Homo sapiens: one gene and its partner. The protein of the gene in region 1 interacts with the protein of each later gene in a biochemical or structural test. Each region holds a gene or a part of one and is shown on either strand. Other genes may lie near its edges.

Region 1 (3,838 bases):
TACAGGCGTGAGCCACTGCGCCCAGCCTTTTTTTGTATTTTAGTAGAGACAGGGTTTCACCATGTGGTCCAGGCTGGTCTCAAACTCCTGACCTCAAGTGATCCCCCTGCCTCAGCCTCCCAAAGTGCTGGGATTGCAGGTGTGAGCCACCGTGCCCAGTCTTTTTTTTTTTTTTTTTTTAAAGATGCAGTCTTGGCTGGGTGCGCTGGCTCATGCTTGTAATCTCAGCATTTTGGGAGGCCGAGGCGGGCGGATCACCTCAGGTCAGAAGTTCGAGACCAGCCTGAACAACATGGTGAAACTTCGTCTCTACTAAAAAAAAATACAAAATTAGCCGAGCATGGTGGCGCATGCCTGTAATCCCAGCTACCCAGCTACTTGGGAGGCTGAGGCAGGAGAATCGCTTAAACCCGGGAGGCAGAGGTTGTGGTGAGCCAAGATCTCGACATTGCACTCCAGCCTGGGCAACAAGAGTGAAAATCCGTCTCAAAAAAAAAACATAAAAAAAAGATGGAGTCTTGCTTTGTCACCCAGGCTGGCATACAGTGGCACAGTCAGGGCTCACTGCAGCCTTGACCTCCCAGGATCAAGTGATCCTCCCACCTTAGCCTCCAGAGTAGCTGGGACCACAGGTGTACATTTTTTAAAAGTGTTTTGTAGAGATAGGGTCTCACTATGTTACCCAGGCTGGTCTCAAATGCCTGGATTCAAGTAATCCTCCCATCTCTGCCTCCCAAAAGTGCTAGGATTACAGGCGTGAGCCACCCCGCCTGGCCTGAACTACTATCTTTTATTGTCTTCTTCACTATCCCCCACTAAAGCAGGTTCCTGGTGGGCAGGAACTCCTCCCTTAACCTCTCTGGGCTTGTTTCCTCACCTTTAAAATGGGTGTTATCAGAGTCCCTGCATCTCAGAGTGTTGCTATGGTGACTGAATGAGTTCATTAATGTAAGGCACTTCAACAGTGCCCAAGGTGCTCAATAAATAGATCTAACTACAGTAGTGTTCCCCACTGGTCCCCTGTGCCTTGATGCCGGGCAAAGGAATAGTGCAGACAGGCAGGAGGAGGCAGAGAGGGAGAGAGAGGGAGTGGGAGTGGGGGAACGTCAGGGATGGAGACCCCAGGCAGGCGCCCAATGACACAGAGATCCGCAGTCCTCTCTCCATCTTTAATGGGGCCCCAGGTGGGCTTGGGGCACGGGTGTCCTTAAATACAGCCCCCATGGGCAAGGCAGCGGGGGCGGGGCGGGGTGGGGCCGGGCCTGCCGGGGCGGGGCGGGGCGGGGCGGGACCTCAGCTGCACTTGCAGGAGCGCACGATCATGTTGGACAGCTGCTCCACCTTGGGCTTGCGGCCCACGTAGTACACGATGGGCAGCGGCTCCAGCGCCTGCGGCACGCAGCACGGCGCCGCCGAGGCGCCCGGGTTATGCTGGTTGTACAGGGCCAGGACCTGCGGGCGGCGGGCGGGGTCAGGGCTCAGGGCTCGTGGAGGGAGGAAAACGGCCCTCCACTGCCCCATCCCCCACCCGCTACCGCGCCAGCCTCTCTCACTTCGTCTCTCCCCGCATCCCCTCTTCCCATCTCCAATTCGGTCTCTCTTATCTTCTAACATCCTATCTTATTCTGTCTCTCCCCACCTGTCTGATTTTCTTTTTGTTTTGAGACTGGGTCTCGCTCTGCCACCCAGGCTGGAGTATAGTGGCACGATCATGGCTCGCTGCAGCCTCAACCTCCTGAGCGCAAGCCATCCTCCCGCCTCAGCCTCCGGAGTAGCTCCAACCACAGGCAAGCGCCACCACTCCTAGCTTTTTTTTTTTTTTTTTTTTTTTTTTTGGTAGAGATGGGATCTCAGTCTGCTGCCTGGGCTACTCTCGAACTCCTGGGCTCAAGCGATCCTCCTGCTTCAGCGTCCCAAAGTGTTGGTATTACCATCGTGAGCCGCCGCGCCCGCCTGATTTTCTTTCTCAGTCTCTGTCCCTCCTCATCTTCGCCTCTTGCCTTGTTGTGTATCTGTCTTTGTCTCTCCTTGGCCTAACTCTGTGTCTGTATCTGTCTCTCTCATTTTGTCTCTCCATTTCTGCGTTTTTCCTTCCATCTCCCTGTCTCTCTTCTCCCCTTCACCCCCATCCCTCTGTTACTTCACTCTGTGGGTCTTCATAGCTCATCTCCCTCTGGCCCCTGCTCAGAGCCCCTCTCTAGCTTCCTGCCTCTCTCCCCATCTCTTTATTCATTCCCCTCCCCACCCCATCCCTCTCTTTCTCCCCATCCTGCCAACTCACCTCTCTGACTTTACTTCTCTTTCTCTCTCCTCTTCCTCCGTCCTGGCTCCCCCCAAGCGCATCTCGTAGCCCGGTGGGCCAGACGTACCTTGCTGTACTGCGTGTCCAGGCTCCAAATGTAGGGGCAGGGCCCGAGGCAGAAGTTGGCATGGTAGCCCTTGGGCTCGTGGATCCACTTCCAGCCGAGGTCCTTGCGGAAGTCAATGTACAGCTGCCGCACGCAGCAGTTCTTCTCCGTGGAGCTGCAGGCAGGAGAGACGCGTCAGGGGCAGGGAGGGGCTACCACCATAGAAGCCACATGCCCCTCCTCCCCAGGTGCGTGTGTCACCCTAGGTTGCCCCCCCAGCCCTATCTCCATCTGGGTCTCCCTTGCACCCACTGTGTTAATAACAACACAAATAGTCATGATAATCACTAACACAGATTAAGCACTTCCTCCAGTGCTAAGAGCAATGTAATAATTAATTTCACGCAATGCTTAAGACAAGCCTGTAAGAAGCCAGATGACCATCCACGGGGGGGCTAAATAAATCATGGCATGCCACACCCTGGAACATACAAAATAACACAGCTCCATGTAAACTGATCTGCTCTATTTGTGCAACAAATGTTTATTGAACTACTACTGTGTGCTGGGCTGGGATCTACTGTGGACTGAGGACAAATGAAACAGATAGAAATAGGCTAGGCATGGTGGCTCACACCTTTAATCCCAGCACTTTGGGAGGATGAAGTGGGAGGATCGCTGGAGTCGAGGAGTTCGAGGTTGCAGTGAACTATGATAACACCACTGCATGCCAGCCTGGACAACAAAGTGCAAGACCCTGTCTCTACAAAATTTTTTTTCAATTTTTTTAAAAAAGAGACAGAAATCTCTGCCCTCCATGGGCATGCTATAAATTGTCTTGTCACTCCTCTGCTCTGAACCTGGCTCCATCTCACGGCAAATGCCCAAGTCCTCACCGTGAGCCACAAGGTGCTATCAAATCTGGCTGATCTCAACTCCCTCTCTCACGCCTACTCCACTCCAGCCACACTGGCGTCCTGTCTGTTCCTCAGACAGTCTTATTTCGGGGCTCCTGCATCTGCTGTTCCCTCTGCCTGCCTTGCTAGTCCCACAGATACCCACTCCAGCTTGTTCCTTCACTTCATTTCTTCTTTTTTTTTCTATTTTTTTTTTTTTTTTTTTTTGAGACAGAGTCTCACTCTGTCTGCCAGGCTGGAGTGCAGTGGCATGATCTCGGCTCACTGCAACCTCCGCCTCCCAGGTTCAAGCGATTCTCCTGCCTCAGCCTTCCGAGTAGCTGGGATTACAGGCGTGTGCCACCATGCCCGGCTAATTTTTTTGTCTTTTTAGTAGAGACAGGGTTTCACCATGTTGGCCAGGCTGGTCTCGAACTCCTGACCTTGTGATCCGCCCACCTCAGCCTCCCAAAGTGCTGGTATTACAGACCTGAGCCACTGCATCTGGCCTATTTATTCTTTTTAATTTGTTATTCTTTTTAGAGACACGGTCTCACTATGTTGCTGAGGCTGGTGTCGAACTTGGGCTCAAAC
Region 2 (3,600 bases), on another chromosome or scaffold:
TTACCCTATATGGTCTAAAAGGGAGAGAAACCCTCGGTTCCAGGAACTCCCCACCCTTTTTCTGGAAAACTCTTAAATAATCCACCCCTTGTTTAGCATATAATCAAGAAATAACCATATGTATACTCAGTCCAGCAGCCCATTCCCTGCTCTGTCTATGGAATAATCACCCTTTTATTCCTTTACCTTCTTAATAAATTTGTTTTCACTTTACTCTGTTGGCTCGCTCTTGAATTCCTTCCTGTGCAAGCCAAGAACCCATGTGGCCCCCAGGCTGAACCCCAATTTAGGGGTTCATCCTGTGACCCATTGGCTGGAAAAGGTGTAGGAAACCAAGTAGCTTTGTCATTGTCCCAAAGCTCCACTCTCACCCCCACCCAACAGCCACATCATTATGCCAGCCAGCTCCAGATCCTTGAAAAAAGTAGCCCTCTAAAAATGTATGGAGGTTTCCCAACCCATCTATCCAGAGGGGGCTGAGACCTAGCTGTTTGGAAGGGTGAGAGTTGGGAGAGGGTAGTTGTCACCTCCTGAAGGAGTTCCTAGGGTGACCAGAGGGCATGGGCGTCTTCTCCCGGACAGGTTGAGGGGGAGGCTGGAGGGCAGGGTGGCTGAAGCAACAAGGGAGCAGATATCCCCTGGACTGGAAAGGACATCTTGATGGGTCCCTGGCCTGCCTCTCTCCTCAGGCCCTACTTACGCAACACTGCGGCCAGGCTCAGTGCCCCTCCAGCCAGGCGCGCGCACGCTCACAAGACAACATCTGAACCGCGGTTTGGGAGCCCAGCCAGGAAGGAGGGCTCTCTGGCCGCTCTCCGACCCGAGCGGAGCGCAGTCCGCCCCCGCCCCACGCGCCGGGCCCTCCAGCGCCTGCCCCACTCCTCCTCCCTCCTGCCGGGCCAGCTCTCTCCTTCTTTTCTCCGACCCTTTGGAGAAGTTCGAGGAAACTTTCCGAGGCCCAGCCCTTGACCAATTTGTCCATTAAGCCAGGAGAAAAAAGATGCGCTCTCTGCTTCCCTCCTGCCCCAATCACTTCCCAAATGGCCCCCTCGAGCTGTTTGTTTAAAGGTCCCTCTCCGGATCTGTGCCGAAGGTTCCTAGAAATTTGCCAAGCCCCGCTTTGACCAAGCTCCCTCCCATCCTTATGCGCGCATAAGTTTACCCAAATTGTGTGCCAGAGCACCGTTCCCAAAGTCCTACATTAGCAAAAACGACCCCTGTAGCTGTTTGCCAAAGGCTTACCTAGACGCTTGGCAAGAGCCCTTAGCAACTGCCCAGATGTGTCCAAAAGTTGTTTACAAAGACCGCCCCCCCCCCCCGCCAAATGTCCCAGATACTAGAGGATGTCCCCGCTATTTACATAAGAGTCCCTTTCCAGTAGTTTGCCAGGTCACCCCTCTCCCACTCTCTGGCTTGTTTTTCGCCCCACTGCTGTATGCTGAAGGTTGCCAAATTGTTTATCAAAGGTTTTCTTTGCTTACAAAAGATCCCCCACCGTTTGCAAGAGATCACTCCAATAGCTTGCCAAAGACCCCCCAAGCTGTTTACCGAAGCCCCTCCCCCACGCTGTGTGCCCACCGCCGAGGGCAGGGGGAGAGACACCCCCATCCTTTGCCTCCGAAGTTTGTCTAAACGTGGTTCCTTGAGGCCAGCGCAGCAACTCACCACTGCCAACTCTTTGTCCGTTTTGGGGGCGACATCGCCGGGGAACTTGATGATGGGCGACGGCGCGGCGGCGGCGTGGCTCAGCAGGCAGCCCAGGAGACAGAGCGCCCTCAGGGGACCCGTGAGCGCGCCCCGGGCCATTAGCGCCTCCATCGTAGCGCTCCCTGGCCCCGCGCGTCGCCCGGGGGTCGCTGGCTCGGTGCGTGTGGCCGCCTCGCCGCCTGGTTGGAGCCTGCTCCGCGGCGCAGGGCTGCGCTCCGAGGGTCCGCTGGCTCGGTGGCCTGGGGTTTGCCCGGCTCAGCGGCTCATGGTCCGGCCCCCGCGCCCCAGCCCCCGCCGCCGCCGCCGCCGCCGCAGGTCCTGGCAATCCCTTTGTATGTTTAAAGCCCCAGATGCGCAGCCTCCAGCCACCGCCTGAGGAAGTCTGGATGCAGCGGAAACAAGGGAGGGCAGCCGCCAGATGTAGCCGGCTGGGCTGGGAGGGAGCTGGCAGAGCGGGGCTGGGGGCGGGGGGCGCACTCGGGCCCGCCCCTCTCTGCCCCACCCCCCTACTCGCCCTCCTCCACTTTTCTCCTCTTTTTTCCTTTCTCCACCTCTTTTCCCCGGCCGCCTGCTACTCCTGGCCTCTACGTCCACCCTCAGTGCACGACCTCGTCACCCCACTTGCCTCTCTCGCGATCTGGGCGCACAGCCTCAGAACCCCCTGCTGGGAAACATCTGTCGCTCTAGGCCCTTGACGTCCTGAGGTTAGAGAGCAGCGGTACTACTAGGAGGGACGCCGGCTTGGCTAGGACACCCTGCACTCCCTGGGGTCAGGAACGGGAAGGAATGGTCAGAAACAGATGATCAGCCACAATGATAGATGGTCAGAGACAGAAATTTTCGATATTTAGGGATAGGGACAGAGAGATTCTGGGATGAACAGAGATGGAAAGAGAGAGATGGAAACAGAGACAGTGGAAGGTCCCAGGTTGCTTCCTTACCTCTTTCCTTCTGCAAATGTGTAAGCCTTAACTTGGCCTCGTATAGTGCGAGATGCTAGATACACCTTGGGAAATAGAGCAGTCAGGGGCCCCGCGTTAGAGACGTTGGAACCAGAGCGACTCCATCTTGAACAGGGGGCTGGGTAAAATGAGGCTGAGACCTGCTGGGCTGCACTCCCAGGAGGGTCCGCATTCTCGGTCACAGGATGAGATAGAAATTGGGCAAGACTGGTTTAATAAGATAGAGGTCACAAAGACCCCACTGATAAAACAGTATGCAGTGAAGAAGCCAGCCAAAACCAAGATGGCAAAGAAAGCGACCTCTGGTCATCCTCACTGCTCATTTTACGCTAATTATAATGCATTAGCATGTTAAAGGAAGCACCCACCAGTGCCATGGCAGTTTATAAATGCCATGGCAATGTGGGGAGGTTTACCCTATATGGTCTAAAAAGGGGAGGAGCCCTCAGTTCCACGAATTCCCCACTCACTCTTGAATCCTTTCCTGCGCCAAGCCAAGAATCCATGTGGCCTCTCAGGTCGAATCCCAATTTTGAAGTTCTCCCTGTGACAACCGTCTCTGAGGAATGTCTTCTCCCTCTCTCAGGAAAGACAGTTGAGAGATAAGCTGTGATGGGGAACTCCAGCAGGCTGTTGGGAACGCCTGACTTCAGCCCCTAAACTAGTAAAGACAATCAAGGAAGGCTTCCTGGAAGAAGTGACTTCTGAGCTGAGACCTGAAGAGCTAAAGAGGTGGAGTGCTGGGTGGGGAATATGGGGAATGTTTTAGGGAACATTGACAATGGCCCAGAGATGAAAAACAGCAAGAGGCACTGGAGAAGAAAGTTTTTTCTATCTGAAAAAGGTGGGGCACAGGGTGAGGGGATGGAGCTGGAGGGGTCAGTAAGGACCAGCCTAGGAAGGGGGCAGATAGGACTGGGGGTCAGCAGGG

The links. Proteins that work in one complex are often made in the same cells at the same time.
Region 2: of the proteins of TGFB1 (region 1) and MMP2, one has a biochemical effect on the other in vitro, tested with the Homo sapiens proteins (one study listed by BioGRID).

Annotation. Positions count from the first base shown.
Region 1 is NC_000019.10:41,329,759-41,333,596, forward strand, and holds the end of TGFB1 (transforming growth factor beta-1 proprotein preproprotein), read right to left. Parts: intron 2,524-3,838; coding exon 2,370-2,523; intron 1,453-2,369; coding exon 1,294-1,452; 3' UTR 565-1,293; downstream 1-564. UniProt on the Homo sapiens protein: Transforming growth factor beta-1 proprotein: Precursor of the Latency-associated peptide (LAP) and Transforming growth factor beta-1 (TGF-beta-1) chains, which constitute the regulatory and active subunit of TGF-beta-1, respectively.
Region 2 is NC_000016.10:55,477,698-55,481,297, reverse strand, and holds the start of MMP2 (72 kDa type IV collagenase isoform 1 preproprotein), read right to left. Parts: upstream 2,101-3,600; 5' UTR 1,819-2,100; coding exon 1,666-1,818; intron 1,301-1,665; exon of another isoform or gene 1,243-1,300; intron 766-1,242; exon of another isoform or gene 701-765; intron 1-700.